Linked DNA regions of Homo sapiens: region 2 is linked to region 1. A link means that fine-mapping ties the variant in region 1 to the expression of a gene that starts in the linked region. Tissue or cell type: whole blood. Region 1 holds a variant in brackets; the other region holds the start of a gene. All regions are shown on one strand. Distances are between the middles of the regions.

Region 1 (8,103 bases):
GGGAGCGAACCCACCTGCTCAATGCATGAATGAATGAATGAGTAATGAATGAAGACAGCAGACCAGACCCCAACCCAACCCTCACACGGCCTCCCCGCCCCTCCTGGAGGGGAAGTCTTACCGAAAACTGGGTGGCGAAGCATCTCGTGCTCGTGTGGGGGCTGTCCAAGCAGAGGGTTGGGGAGAGTGCCAGGCGGGTAGGGGAAGCGAGCCAGGTGGGGACCGGCAGTCAGGGGGTCGACCAGCGGGTGAACGGGGCCTGCTGAACCTAAGGAAAGGACAAAACGCCAGATGGAGGCGGTGTGCAGCTCTTCAATGTTTGTCCCCCTTGGCTGGAATGACCGATGACTTCCTCCTCACCCAGGATGGCTCCTGGTCACCAGGGCTGGATGCACCACCTGGCTACAGGTGGCCCTGCCCCAAAGTGGCTGCCTCCACCTTCAGCAAGAGCTCCAGAGGCCGAGAGAAGTGACGAGCCCACCGCTGATGCAGGCACTCCCTCGTCCGCTTGTGGAGTGCCCCTAACAGGCAATCCCAGGCCAGTTTTGTCGAGGACCCGGGATCAGCAGGGTCCCTCTCGCCGGCCACCTGGGCCTGCCCTCTGCCTGTCAGGTCACAGGAACACACAGCCTTGCGCCAGTGGGTGTTGGGCTGGCACCCCCTGCCCAGGGCTGTCTCCCTGCTCTTCACTCGCAGAACCTAAAGGAGGCCAGCAGAGTGGGTGGCGCAGAATGGGGACCTGGCACAGCACTGCCCTCTCCTCTCTGCTGGCACAAATCTTGCGTCTCTCCCTTCAGAACGTTGCCTTGATCTGACCTCACTGCACCACCTCCTGCCCTCACCTCCTATCTCCCAGCTCCAGCCAACACAGGCGCTGGCAGGGATTTCAGGGTTGCCACCTCCAGCCATGCTGCCCTGGGGTCCCTGGAAGATTGGGAGCCCCCGCTCTGCCTCTGTGGCTGCTCTTGCCCCGATTTCCCACAGCTTGCCCTTTCATCTCCTCCATGTTTCTGCTACCTCCTCAGCGGACCTCTCCTGACGGCCTTCTCGAAACCGCCATACTGCCCCTGCGCCCAGCTCTCCTGATCCCCTCTTCTGGATTTATTTTTTTCCAGAACATATACTTTCTGCCTCTCACAACGTGGCACACGTCTTTCAACTATCTCCCCAAACTGGAAGGTAAATGTGGACAGGGGTTCTGCCAGCACCTACAACTGTGCCTGGCACATTCCAGGGGTTCAGTAAACACTTGCTGAATGAATGATGCATGAATGAACAAATGACTACCTGTCCTCAACACTGCTCATACTGAGGCTTGTAAGGTCTACACCAGGTGCCAACAGAGCTTCAGATATGAGGACGGCAATGGTGAGTGCTCTCCCATGTCAGGACTGGGTACAGGGGCAGGGGAGGCGCCTGGTGCCTCCAAGCAAGGTGGCTCCCCGCCCTCCCTCTGGGCCCTGCTCTATCAGTCATCCTGCCCCACACTGGAGGGTGGCCAGTGAGGAAGCCCTGCACGTAGGCTGTCCCACAGGACCTGTACTCCAAGTCCCATGGAGCAGGTGAACCTGCCTCCTCGTAAGCACAGTAGCCACCCCCTGCGCCATCTCACCAGGCTGCAGAGGGAGTGAGGATGCCAGCTGGGCCTGCCTCTGCCTCAGAGCAGCCTCTCCACAGCTGGTCAATGAGTGGCCTTAAGGAGCTCCTACTTCCAGGGTGGACAGGACTGAGCAGCCCTGGCCAGGTGGGTCAGCTCGGAAAACTCAGCCAAAGCCAGCAGGAGGCCTGCCCAGCCTCGCTCCTCAAGGGAAGAGGACTGTGCTTTTCATTCTCCCTCAGCCACCCTTGAGTAGCCCAGTGCCTTATCTGTACGTTCCTTGGCTCCAAAGGCCACATGACACTGCTCTGCTGCCCTTACCCTGCCCTGTGGGCCTAGGCCACTTCCCTCCATCCCAGGCACAGGGCCAAGAACCCAGGCTTCACCCGTGTGCTGCAGCTGTCTGAGGCCTTGCAGTTCTGGAGAGCTGCGGGGCCGAGGAGAGACTGCGATACAGCAAAACCATGACGGTAGTGGATGCTGAGCTCTTCTAAGATCTGCCAGGGATGAGGGATCTGTTCAGAAAAGAACAGTTTCCGCTCCTGGATGGTGACTGTCACTCATCAGGCTCTGCACCCCTCCCCGTGCCTCTGTCCCACCTGCCACGCTGGGGCACGCACCTTGGTGGAGGGGGTCCTGCTGGTGGAGGTGGAGGTGGGAGTGAATGTGAGAGTGCTGGTGATGGTGCGGAGTCACGTTGAACATCTGCAGTCGGGCCAGGGGATCGCTGGTCAGCGATGCCATGCGCTCTGCGTGGATACGCTCGGCTGCCAGTCTGTCAGGGTAGCTCATCTCGGGCCGCAGCTGGGGGCCCGCCAGGGCCAGTCTCTCCCTCTCCAAGGGGTTCAGGCCCGGGTGGAAAGAAGCAAAAGGGTGGGGCCCGGCGGTCGGGGGGATGGTGAGGGCGCTGTGCCGGGCAAAGTGCTCCATGGGGTTGGCGGCTGGGTGCAGGGGGTCCAGCTCTGGGGGCTTCACCTCGAAGCCCGGCTTCATCCTCTCCCGCAGCTCCCGCTCTCGGATCTCCCGCTCTCGGATCTCCCGCTCCCGGAGCTCCCGCTCGCGGATGGTGGGGTCGACGTTGTAGAGGCCAGGCATGTGGTAGGCCAGCAGGGGGTCCGTGGGGTTAAGGGGCATGTAGAAGGGGTGGTTGCGGTTGGTGGGCGACATGACGTGGGGCCGGGCGTACTCGCTCAGAGTCCGAAGGGCAGGTGTGTCGGGCCCGATGTAGGGGGGCACAGCAGCAATGGTGGTTGGTGGTGGCTCGAAGGATGGCCGCATGTGGCCAGGACCACTGAGCTGTGGGTCACTGAGGCGACCTTCATGCGCTGAGCTGGACGCCTTCTGCAGAAGGAAAAGAAAGCGTGAGGGGTCCCCCGAGCGCCTGGGGTCTCCGCTTGGTCCACACTGCGGAGGTGGGCCTGGTCCTGCTCCTGGCCTGCTCTGACAGGCCAACCTGGTCCCTCCACGGAGACCCGGCCCTGCCTTGGCCTGACACCAGGATGCAGTCCAGGCCCCACAGGGTCGGGCTCACCTGTGCCCGCAGCTCCCCTCAGGCCCAGATGGGAATGTGTCCCTGTGAGACTAAGCTCATGCATGGGTTGTCTACGTGTGAGGGTTGTGTCTGGGAGTGACAGCTGGGGGGCATGGGTGAGTGAGCCCAGCAGGCCAGGAACCTCACTGGCAGTCCCTCATGCCACTTCCTGGGTTGGCTGCCCTTTCCTCCCCGCGACAGCAGAGAGCTGGCCACCACCACAGCACCCAGCCCACGAGGGGGCCACAAAGGCAGGGCAGCTGGAGAGGCCCCTCGCAGCCTGCTTATCGCCTGAGTGCTCAGGTCTTCTCTCAAGGCGCCCCCTTGTGCTTCTCCCCGACTCCTTCAAATTACTTAGAAGTTATGAACCCAAAGGCTGCAGGAGAAGGACAGGCCCTTTCCTCGAAGGCCCTCCGGTAGGAGGACGCACAGTCACTGCTGGGAGTCAGCCTAGACCTGCCATGCGCAGTTACCCCGGCAGCTTCGGATGTGCAGCACCCGTCAGAGGTGTGGAGACAGGGTGTAAATAGCACCCAACCCTCTAGCTGCCAGGAGGCCGAGTCAGGCAGCCAAGGGCAGAGCTCGGTGGCCCAGCGTGGCTCCCAGGCGCAGGATGGACCAGCGCCCCCCGTCACACCTCGCCAACCCTGGACTCACAGCCGCCCGCTCTGCCTCGCGCTCCCGCTCTCGCTCCCGCTCCCGCTCCTTCTCCTTCTCCTTCTCCCGCTCTCGCTCCTCTCGGGCTTTCTGCTCAGCCTCGCGCTTGGCCTTCTCAATGGCCTCCTCCCTCTTCTTGGCCAGCTTGGACCCGGCCAGAGGCATGAAGTACAGGTCTGTCCGGGCACACGAGTTGTAGCCCCGGTCCAGGTGTTTGTAGAACCTGAGAAAAGCCACAGATCTTGCTGGGAGCTCCTGCCGAGACCCACCCCGGCCCTCCCTCCCACCAGAACTTGCCCCCACCAGCCCACCTGTGCCTGACCCGTCCTGGAGCCCTAGGAAGCGTACCTAGCTGACTGGCTGGCGTGACTGGGGGTGTCCACCACAGTGGGCTCCGGGGACGGGCTCCTTGGTGGGGGAGGGGGGCTCTCAGGCTCCTCAGCGTCGTCCAGAGCCTCCTCCTTGATCTGGACGGTGGGGAGTGGGCAGGACGACCCCCCCGCTATGCTGCCTCCTGAAGCCGCCGCACCAGAGCAGGGTGGCTGGGCCGAGGTGCCAGGTCCCGCCGGTGGGGTAGAGGTGGAGGGGCAGGTCGGAGGGGTGATGGGAGGAGGGCCTCCAGGGACAAAGGGGTGCTGAGCAAACGGGGGTTGGGGGGCCACCTGGTGGAGGCCTGTAGGGGGGTGGGAGGCAGGGGGCGGGGGCAGGTTCTGGCTCTGGGTCAGCCCGGGGGGCTGGGCGGGCGAGGAGGGCAATGGCTGGCTCTGAGGCATGAGTTGCAGGGGTGGGGGGTGAGCCGACGGGGGGTGATGTGTGGACAGGGAGCTCAGGGGCTTCAGGGCTGGAGGGGGAGGCAGGTTGGCATTCATGGAGAAGGGTGAGGGCCCCGAGAGGTGGGGAGGGTGCTTGTGGGCCTGTGGCGCCGGCAGCTGGGGGATGGGAGTGGTAGGCGGGGGCTTGATGTGGGGCATGGCCAAGGGCGCTGGTGGCAGGGGCTGCTCCCGTGGAGGCTGTTGGGACTGCAGCGCTGACTGAGAGGCTGGCAGCTGCAGGGAGGTGTGAGGGTACGCTGCTGCTGGGGAGGTCCCCAGAGGGGCCTGGCCTTGGGAGGCCTGGGGAGGGAGGCCAAAGGGCTGTGGGGGGCCTGGGTGCTGCAGCAGGGGCCCAGCCTGCAGGCTGTGAGGGCCGGGTGGGCCCTGACCGTGCAGTGGGGGCTGGGCATGAGAGGGTGCAGAAGGCTGGCCCGCCGACCCAGTCAGAGGCTGCAG[C/T]GGGGGATGTGGCGAGGGATGCGGCGGGGGATGCGGTGAGGGCGGCCGCTGGGGGTGCAAGGCCGGTGCCTGTTGGATGTGGGTGTGGGGAACAGGCGCTGTGGGAGCCTGTGGCTGGTTAGGGGCCTGGGAGGCCGTGGGGGAGCCCTGTGGGGGAACTGCAGTGGCAGAGGGCGTGGGCCCTGGCGTGGGCAGCTGAGGGGTCCCTGGAGGAGCTGAGGAGGGAGCTGGGGTGACCCCAGTGGGAGCCTGCAAGGCTGGGGGCTGGGCCTGCAGCATCTGCTGCTGGGCTGACGAGTCCGAGTCACTCTCATTGTCCTGGGGGCTGGGGATGCTCGGGGACGTGCTGCGATTGTCCTGGTCGATGTCTTTGGGGTCACTGCTACCCTCATCGTTGACGCTGCGACTGTCTGAACTCTCTCCCTCACCTTCAGATGGCGAGTTGGGCCTGCTGATCTCCTGGAGTCAGAGAAGGGAAGGATGGAAGTCCCAGGAGGGCAGAGCCCTGTCTGCTCTGCACCACCAGTGCCGGACACACAGTAATGTTTGTGCAGATGAAGCAGCAAGCTTGGCTCCGGGACCACAGGTCGTGCCCTGACCCAGCCAGTGTCAAAGGCCACTCCAGCCCCACCCTAGGAGACAGGGCACGGCCACCAACTAGGGAGAACCCCGGCTGGGGGCTTCTGAAGAAGCATTAGCTTTACTCAGCAAGGCTCAGCAGCAAACCTCACCTGCGTTTTTGTCTTCTTGGAGCTGGTCCTGTCAGCCTCCTCCGTATCAGAGGCCACCTTCTCCCGCTGGCGTTTGTTACTCTTAAGAGGGGAAGAGGCTTCCTCCTTCACCTTCTGCAGGGGAAAAGCCCACAAGGAGCAATCAGGCCAAGGGAGACCATCCCATCAGCCTCAGCAAGGAAATGACGGTTTGCAGACACTTTGCTCCCTCATTCTGAGTTCCATCTCCAGGAGCAAAAAGCTCTAGAAGGGTCAACTGGGGCCAAGAAGGAACACGTATCTGGGGGTGGGAATGAGAGCCAGCCCTCTGCACCTGTGGGTTTGCATCCTCAGATTCAAGCAACCATGGACTGAAAATGTAGGCAGGACTGTGATGGTTACATCTATACTGAACGTGCACACAATGTTTTCTTGTCATTATCTCCTGAACTAGACAGTGGAACCACTGTTTAAACTGCATTTACATTGCACTGGGCAGTAGAAGTAACCTAGGGATGATTTAGAGTCTACAGGAGGATGTGACTGGTCACATGCAAACCATGTGTCGATGTATATGAGATTTGAGCACCTGTGGATTTTGGTATCCTGGGCGGTGGAGGCTCTGGAGCCAATCTCTAATGGATACCAAGGGAGGACTGTACTTGGCTCTGGAGGGAGCCGTTCTAACCACTCCCCACACTTTCTGAGAACTTGGGAAGCTTGAGGCAGAGGTGGCCCCCAAGAGTTGGTGCTCGAGCCCCCTTCTCTAGGCCCCCAGCCTTCGGTCTGCAGCCCCTAGGCCAGGACAATGCTGGTGTCCAGACAGGCTCCATGAATGAGCTGCATCCTCGTGTCTGAGGGAGCTGATCACGAATACCAGCAAACCAGTTTTAATGTGAGGGAGGGACAGAGTAGGCCCTACTATCCCCCCAGCACCTGACCTTGGCCGACTTCTTCACTGTCTCTGCTTTACTGTCATTGCTGGAGGTACTGGCAGCGCTGGGGGAGTTCCGGCCGCTGGAGCGGATGTCTTCATTGATGGGTGAGGTGCGACCATCAGGGCTGGCTGGCTGCTTCTTCCGACCACTGCGTAGTGTCGACATCTGCCCACCCAAACCGAAGACTGGTGACACCAGATTCCCAGTCCCCATGTGGACCCACCTGAGCCCAACCCACAGGCAGAAGCCTGAAGGCACACCCTATCAGCCTCTCAGCAAATCCCAGACCTTGGCAAACAACAGGCCGCCCTGCCTGTCCCTGGCTGCATGAAGGTCGGTGTGGAGCTCAGGGAAGAGGTGGGGAAATCAGTGGGCTCACGCCAGAGGGCGGTTCTCAAACCTAAAGCACTCATCCCAAGGGACTGTCCTGAACAACGTGTGCTGGAAATGAACCACACTTTCTGAGCGGCAGAAAGTCGCCTGGGGCCATCTTTAAAGCACCCTACACCCTTTCTGTTTATTCCTCATAACCGTCCATTCTCCCAACCAAACCAAATGAAATCAAACACTTGTGGATTTAATCTGACAGGACAGGAAGTGACCCAAAGAGATGAAGCTGTCAAGTAAAGCAGCTCAGCTCCCCAAGCCGCCAAGCGCTTCAGCATGTTTCTGCAAAGCCATGAGGGCTCAGAAGAGATCAGGAGACAATGGTTCTGGCTGGTTGACCTGCTCCCTTCTGAGTGAGCGGGGGCCGGGCTGCCAGCAGCCTCAACGGCATACAAGGGGCAGAGGAAAGTGGATGGTCCCACCCACCTGCCAGAAGGGGCCATAAGGGAGGCTGAAGGGAAAGACCCTGTCAGTACCCTCAGCCCCAAACCTGGAAAAAGCCTCTCCCAAAGTCCCTGGCACATTTCCAACCTAGGAAACAAAGTCTCTTTATGGGAGGAGCTATGCAGTGAGCAGAAAAATGTATCGGAAGTTTCCAAAACGGGATCAAACATTTAAAAAAAATCACAAACACACTAACACAAAAGAGCCTGCAAGTTTAAAATAGCAGAGATTTGATACAATGGAAGTGACACCACAAGCAGCAGCCTTGGAGAGCAAGAGGGGCCTTGGAGAGCCTGCACTGAGCCAGAAGCTAAGAGCTTGCTACAAAACCCAGAGCAGGATGCCACCCTGGGGCCCCTCGAAGGAGAGAACAGAGAACTCTTCCCAGCCCACAGGCAAGCTACCGCCTCGGGCAAAGCAGCTCCCCTCCAGGACTTTGTCTGGTAAACAAGACTTTCGCTTCCTCCCCCTGGGAGGCTCAAGCCCCCACACATCCCAGGAAACTGAAGAAGTTGCCAGGAGCCCCATGGCCCCAGGGGACTCACCGAGCCCCGACTCCGCCGTGTCCTCA
Region 2 (8,103 bases), 460 kb after region 1:
TATTTGAACTTGAGTTGTGTTCAAATGTTCATTAAATTGGCCTATGCAATCTTAACAATGTTCTAACACATATTTAAAATGCTCATTTCTCCTCCATTATTTAAAAAAAAAACACACACACACACAAACTATAACTCTGTTAGACAAGAAACCAAACATAAGCCAAAAGGCTCGGCAAAATCACACTTAAATAGGACAAGGAGAGCTTCAACTTCAGAATAATTATCAGGATACCAATCACACAAATATGATTCAACAATCACTTAAATATCATTCAAGAGGAATTCCTGGTAGTAAAAAAAGAAATCCCGTAATTAACTAGAGCACAGCATTATCAGAAACTGATTATGTAAAACAATAGCTTTTCTTTCAGGATGTGTGTATGTGTGTGTAACGAAGTTCACAGCTAGGTTACACTAATGACTCACTTAAACATTTGAATTTTCTGCTATCTTAACCTTTAAATCGACTGCAAAAGTAGCTGCCAAAAGTAGCTTAGTAGGAAAGCATACTACTCTCAAAAGAACTTGGTATGTCCAACTTATTTTACTACTTAAATTTTTTTTGATCACTGATATTTGAAACTAATTTTTAAGTAATGAATGCTTACTAAATCCATGATAATATTCAGCATATACAGGTTTTTAGAAGGGCACAGATTATATTCTTATATGTGTGTTTTTACAGCACCTGGAACATTTCTGTTCAGTATCTGTTCAGTATTACACATAATTATTGCAGGACCTGACAGTGTTTACTATCCTATTTTTTCCTTTTTTTTTTTTTTTTTTTAGACAGAGTCTCGCTGTGTCACCCAGGATGGAGTACAGTGGTGCCAATCTCAGCTCCCTGCAACCTCTGCCTCTGAGTTCAAGCAATTATCGTGCCTCAGCCCCCCAAGTAGCTGGGATTACAGCCACGCGCCAAAGTGCCAGGCTAATTTTTGTATTTTTAGTAGAGACGAGGTTTCACCATGTTGGCCAGGCTGGTCTCGAACTCCTGACCTCAAGTGGTCCACTCGCCTTGGCCTCCCAAAGTGCTGGGATTACAGGCGTGAGCCACCGCACTAGGCCTTACTGTCCTATTTTTTAAAAGCTTTTTCGACTGACCAGTAAATCAAAGTTGAAAAGGTAACTGGTACATTTTATTTCTTGATTTGGATTACCTTTTTGTTGTGAATTGGTTCTCAGTTCTAGTTTCCTTGTGACAAAACACTGATGGAGAATATATTGAACTGAAATCCCCTGAATCCATTCCCACTGAGAAAATAATACATTTGAACTGTTCACATTTCATTGTAAAAGATACACAACTTTAGAGATTACTCTTGAAGTTTTGAAAGTAAAGTGAATCAGAAGTCACATTCCTAGAAGCAGTCAGTCTGGAACAGATGTTTATCCTACACACCCAGTCCCCTTTACCACTGCAAACCTCTCTAATAGTTCATTACATTAGAACAACTGAGATGGGCCAGGATTTGTGAAAATAAAAATCCTTTGAGACATTTATTAAGCAGATTATCTCTGAAACTGCACCTTAGTTTACAAGCCTTTGGGCAACAATTTGACCCTCTTCTATGATAATTTGTGTACACACTCATTTCACATTTTCTCTGGCTTCCAATTTTAAATTCTTTATCTAATCCATACAATAAGTCACCCTATCAGACTTTATAAGACTACTGAAAACAACACTACTGCAATGCAAGGCCACTACATTTGCAAAATTGCCGATTTTAGTGAGATTTCCCTCCTTCAACTCCTCCTCTACCCCTCTACCTGGTTTAAATCCCAAGAAAAACCTCTGTCCAGTGCTACAATTTTACTTTCCATAGAGTAGGTTTATTTGATTTTTTATTAATGATACTAAAAACTTTTTTAAAAGACTGCTGGTGTATATAGTTTCCAATACTGGGAACAGAAATAAACCCTCTGGTTTAATATTTCAAGAGAAATTATCTCATAAAAGATGAGAAGGTATCATTCAAAGGAGTCCTGGGAAGTCACAAAGTGTAAATACTTCTGGTAACAGAACAAATTAATGTCGAAGCACAACCAGTAACATAATAATGCCTCAATGCAACCGTGCCTGTCAAAGGACATCTGTATTAGCAGCTCGGGGAAGTGGCATTTGCAGAAAGGCACAACAACTGCGCTTAAAAGAAAATCATTAAGCCTCAGCCATTAATCCCCTCCCCCATCCTCTTCGTCTGGATCTTTCCAAACAATTAACCAGTAGAAGGTGCTATTCTGCAACCCACATGTATTCACACCAACCTCCATCCTTGGGCCACAGCTGGGTTTATCCCAGGTGGACTAGCCTATTCCCTGTCCAGTATTCAAAGGAGCCCCCTAAACAGAAAACCAGATCTTTTCTTATAACCCTTATTTACAAAAACAACATTGACAGCTCAATTGCCAGCAAACCTGACCATCAAACCATCACACCACTAAAAACATGCAAACATCATCTTGCTAAATATTAACCTCAATACAACCTTTATAATATTAATCAATAAAATCTATTTCTATCTAGAAAGACTCTGCTCACATTCACTACTAAGACTCAAGTGAACAAATCACTGTCCCCAACAAAATCAGGGTCAATGAGAAATACAAAAGCAATGAGAGCTGAACGTAAGGCCACAACATATAAAGAGGGATTTTATCTTTACATATACAAAAAAGAAAGAGCAGCAGAAACCACGGCTGCAAAAGGAATAAAGGGAGGCAGAGAGAAGAGAAGTCTCTGAACATGTTTTTGAGTGTCCTTTAGTTTCCAATGCACTCTTCTGCCTCACAAGGTTGCAAAAACGGCCAGGCATGAGATGGGTGGAAGAAAGCTGTAACAGAAAAGCACCCTCCCTTCCCCCATCTTCTCTCTTCTCTCCCAAAAAGAGCTGTGTTTGTCTGTGCAAACCTAGTCCCAAATATGGGAGAGAGAGAATGAATGTGTGTATGGAAGAACAATGAGCCCTCAGCTTGGTATTGTGTGTGTGTGTATGTGTGTGTGTGTGTGTGTATATGTGTGTCTGTCTGCCTCTGCCTCTTTTCCCTTCGACCTCAACAACAACAGGGAGAGCTGGAAGCCAGCTTTCCACCCATCCCAGGCCATCAAAATCAAAACTGGTTGATAATTTACAGTAGTATTAACTCAGCAAGCAAATCCATGGAACAAAATATCAACCCAAAGATGATTTTATTATTGTACAGATCCAGCTTCTCTCCCCTCCCCCAACAGACTGAGACTAAAAAGACCAGTGTACACTAGACAAAAAGGTCTCTCTTTAAATGGAAAGCAATTATGAAAACTGTTTCAAATCTTAGATGCATCAATTCCTGCTATATTAAAATGTCTATTTTGTAATTCACCAAGTTCACCCTCTTACTAGTTATCTTTTTTTGCGTTTAAAAATTCGCTGTGAAGAAGGCTATTTCACGATTCATACAAAACTACTTTCTAAATGTACCTTAAAAAAGCAACAGATACTGAAACATTTAAAGCACCCAGTTTCTCAAGGACCCATTTTACTTAAATCAATGTTTGAAGTCTGTAATCCAGAAAAATTGTAAGCAAACCTTGGAAAAGAGACAGAGGAAAATGACAATTCAACAATGAATCATTCTGTTTTCCTTTCAACAACTTCTCAAGCAACCAGTTTCAAAGGAAGCCTGCAACACTTTTCCCCCCTCCTAGCAGACACACATACACACGTGTATGTAAAACTACGAATCTTTCCATCATCTTAAAAATTAGTAATAAATAGAAGCCACCCTCCTTCAGAGAGCAGAACTAAAACAGGATAGTAAGAATTCTATTCTGCTGCAAGTGACTTTGGGTTTCATAATTTTCTAATCACATACAGCTGAGAACTAGAGATTGGGAGCACAAAGAGGAAATCTTCCCCCAATGAGAAAATGATACTTTAATAATAAAGTCCTCCCCCCAGCACCCCGAAATCCACAAACATTCAAGAAATTTACAGTTTCAGTCCTTGACTTCCTTCCCTTCCAGTTTCAGCCAATAATGTAGTCACATGAAATAGTTTAACCTCAAACAAGTAGAACAAGAGCATGAATAAGAGGCCAAGAGAGAGCAGGGGTCAGAAGGCACGCAGGAACGGTCACCTGGCCCGGACAGGACCAAAGAAGTGCCCTGCCCTCGCCCGACTCCCCTCGACTTCGGCTTCGACCCCAGCCTTTTCTTCCTGCCTCCCCCCGGGCGAGTGACTGCTTTCACGGCCGACCCTCTCTGACCACCAGGACGAGGGGCCAAAAAAGAAAGCACACGACCCGGCGCGGGCAAGTTGGACACTTACCTTCCCCTAAAGCGCTACACCATCAATAGTGAGGTGTTCGCGGCCCAGCTCCGGGGAAAGTGGCGGGGATGGGGCGGGAGGCCGCGCGGAGGCTGCGGGGCCGCGGGGCGCAGGGCCGAGAGGGGCGGCCCGCGGGGAGGCGACGCGGAGGGGCTGAGGGGGCTTCCCTGCCGTGACCTTTCCTGCGACTTGAACCTAGGCTCCCTCCTCCTCGGTCGGGCAGATCTTTCAGAAGCAGGAGCCCAGGATCATGTCTGGTTTTGTTTTCCGAGGGCGAGGGGGCTCCCTGAGGATGATGGTGATTTTTTTTTTTTTTTAATCCTCAACTAGGAGAGAAAATGAGGCAGAGACAATGTGGGGAGCGAGAGAGGGGAAAAGGACGGGGGAGGAGGCGGGGACCGAGGCCCAGCGGGGCGAGCGTCTCGGGGTGTGCGGGAGGCTGAGGAGGCTCCGGAGCGCGGAGGGTTGCTCGCGAGCGTCTGTGGGAACAGCGGCACCTCCGCGATGGTGGCGGAGCCGCGGCGGAGCTGCTGCACCGACCCGCCGCCCACTCCCCGCTCGGGCCCGGCCCACCTCGCAGTATCGCGCCCCTCCATTGGTACAGCGCGGTGTGACGCGGCCGGGGGCCCGGCCAATGGGAGGCGGAGGAGGCGGGATCTCTTTTTCCTTTTTTTTTTTTTTTTTTTTTTTTTTTTAATCTTTTTAATAAAATGAGCAGAGAAGAAGGCGGAGAGAGGCCGAGCCTTGACAACGCCGCGGCCCGGGGCTCGAGGGCTCGCGCTGCAGGCGGCGGCCAGAGGCGGTGGGCTGGGCTCCCGCCGCGGGCGCGTCTTTGTGAGAGTGCGAGGCCGGCCCTCCTCCGCCGCCCGCCGCGCTCCAGTACCGCCCCCCGCGCCCCCCGGGCTGGGCCGGGCTGGCGGCGCGGGCAGGTCCCGGGTGGGGTGGGGGGAAGTCCGGTTGATCTTGCTGTTACCCGGGTCTTAATTGGCCTTTTCAGTCATTAGGACGCGGATCCATGTTGCTGCGGGCTACAGAGTGGGTGTAAACCATTCTCATATGGACTCTTTCGAAATTCTGATGAGCGGCTTGTAATATTTTTCAAATAGTGTACATGACAAAAGATGAATTACAGAAAGAAAAATAAAAGTGATAAGTCGCACTGCTTATTTGAAAAGAATAAAAAGTGTCATGAAGGCATAAAGGAGAGACTGTACAGGTACAGAAGGGATTTTAGAAAGAGCAGTGTACAACTCTATAAGGTACGTGTGAAAAAAAATCTAAAAAGAGGAAAAGACCAAACATCACCTCTTTTTCTTTGAAGAATGAAGTATTGTGTCCCACTTCCCGAAAGCCTGATAATCACAGGGTCTATCATGCTGTAAAGGGAGTAGGGGCAGGCCAAATGATCATATTCTAGTTCATATAATTTATGGGATTGAGGGGTTTGGAAATTTCAATTATGATTAGCAGTTTTTGAAATGCACATCATGTTTATTGAGTTCTTTCACAGAGCCTGGCACGAATCCAGGGTGAATCATCAACCTATTGTTGGTTTGTTAATATTCTGTAAATGCTTATTGGTGTCCTTATACCATACACTCTTCCCGAAGGAGTTAAGGTCCGTATAAAATAAGGGGTAGAAAACGTAGCACAAAATAATTCACTCATCTGTTTCAAAAGAAGTGATAATTTTCTCCTTGGAAAATCTATTCAGATTATAATTTCCACATTGAATTATTCATTTTTTTTTTTTTTCTGAGAGGGAGTTTCACTCTTGTTGCCCAGGCTGGAGTGCAATGGCGCGATCTCGGCTCACCGCCACCTCCGCCTCCTCAGTTCAAGCGATTCTCCTGCCTCAGCTTCCCGAGTAGCTGAGATTACAGGCATGCGCCACCACACCCAGCTAATTTTGTATTTTTAGTAGAGATGGGGTTTCTCCATGTTGGTCAGGCTGGTCTCGAACTCCTGACCTCAGGTGATCCGCCCGCCTCAGCCTCCCAAAGTGCTGGAATTACAGGCGTGAGCCACCGCACCCGGCCCACATTCAATTATTCTTTAAAGAATAATTTGGACTAACAGATACTATTGGACCATGACCCAAGAGATCTTAAAAAAAAAAAAAAAAGCCATAGATCCTTGCCATCACATTTCTGAGTAACTTTCAGCAAGAAAAATCCTCTTTGCTGGAGTTATGAAATGGGGAAACTAGTTAATATCTCTTTATATATCTGATAATGTGAGAACTGAATTTTAAAACCTAATAAATTCAATAAACTGCTTCCAACATTCTAGATATGGATAGGACTATCTGACTTCCTGTTTGGAAATGATGAGGGATAAAGTATATCAGTTAGATGGCTTCACTTTCCATCAAAATCTCTATCTACAGGAGCATTCTTTCTTTTTTTTCTTTTTTTTTTTTTTGAGACAGAGTCTCGCTCTGTTGCCCAGGCTGGAGTGCAGTGGCACGATCTCAGCTCACTGCAACCTCCACCTCCTCGGTTGAAGCGATTCTCCTGCCTCAGCCTCCTGAGTAGCTGAAATTACAGGTGTGTGCCGCCACACCCAACTAACTTTTGTAATTTTAGTAGAGATGGAGGTTCACTATGTTGCCCAGGCTGGTCTCGAAACTTACAGGAGCATTATTTCTAATAAAGATTCAGCTCTGTGGTAGACAAATGGACAATGCACTGCCATCCAGCAGGGAGGAGAGAGGCTCTCCACGTTAGGAAATAACATTTACTATGGTATTAGGGATTGGCCGTCACTTTCATTTATCCATAAAAATGTAAATTTAGAAGTCCAGAAATGCCACATAGTTACAAAGCATAATATATGGTATCAGACCACAAAATTAGCAAACTAAACCCATTTAACTGTAACAGTCCCACGAAAGAATTGTGGTCCAGCCATAAAGCCGGAGAGTACTGGACCTCCTTCCAAGGATCTGAGAAGCTGATAATGCAGTAAAATAATCTTCATCGTTAAGAACAACTATTAAACTATTGATTGAAAGCTTATGTTCCCAGTGCCCTAAGAAACATGTTACATTCTTTAGCCCACTTTTTCTCCCCATGAAGTGTATTATTATTATCTCTTTTTTTTTTTTTTTTTTTTTTTGAGACAGTTTCGATCTTGTTGCCCAGGCTGGAGTGCAATGGCGCGATCTCAGATCACCGCAACCTCTGACCCCCGGGTTTAAGCGATTTTCCTGCCTCAGCCTCCTGAGCAGCTGGGATTACAGGCATGTGCCACCATGCCCAGCTAATTTTGTATTTTTAGTAGAGACAGGGTTTTTCCATGTTGGTCAGGCTGGTCTCGAACTCCCAACCTCAGATGATCCGCCCGCCTCAGCCTCCCAAAATGCTGGGATTACAGGCGTGAGCCACTGCTCCCGGCTTATTATCTCCATTTTAAAAGTCAAGGAACTGGGGCTTACGGAAGTTAAAGAACTAGCTGAAGATTAAAGACGTAAAATACCGACTTGGATTTTTTTCCCATATTAAATTTTTAAAAGTTTCCTTATTCTCTTTTCAGCAATATTTTTAAGTGGGAATTAAGTAAATAAAGTAGTTATTGAATCTGAAAATATCAAGGACTTTTTTTAGTTATTTTATGTATCTTACTACAGGTAAGAAGTGATTTTTTTTTAAATATACAGAGATCACATCAGAGCTGTATTAAAGGAAGATGGAAAATGGGGATTATTTAATAAATGATATTGGGACAACAAGATAGCTATATGGGGAAACAAAAAACAACAACACACACCCACTAGATTCATA

Evidence for each region. PIP is the estimated chance that this variant, and not a neighbour inherited with it, causes the effect.
Region 2: it holds the start of RERE, and the variant in region 1 is fine-mapped to the expression of RERE in whole blood (INTERVAL, PIP 0.91).

What each region holds. Positions count from the first base shown.
Region 1 is chr1:8,355,979-8,364,081 of GRCh38, forward strand. It overlaps RERE (arginine-glutamic acid dipeptide repeats), which reads right to left. Exons shown (of 23, transcript NM_001042681.2): 15 at 8,078-8,103; 16 at 6,705-6,866; 17 at 5,785-5,898; 18 at 4,134-5,512; 19 at 3,786-4,008; 20 at 2,218-2,938; 21 at 122-268. Among named protein-coding and RNA genes, the nearest start is that of SLC45A1, 42 kb to the left of the region's middle. RefSeq lists enhancers at 3,259-3,760, 3,761-4,260. The variant C/T (reference allele first, on the strand shown) is at 5,054.
Region 2 is chr1:8,812,842-8,820,944 of GRCh38, forward strand. RERE (arginine-glutamic acid dipeptide repeats) reads right to left here and starts at 4,799. Exons shown (of 23, transcript NM_001042681.2): 1 at 4,319-4,799. RefSeq lists silencers at 1,209-1,503, 4,397-4,456, 4,707-5,006, 5,107-5,336 and an enhancer at 4,749-5,043.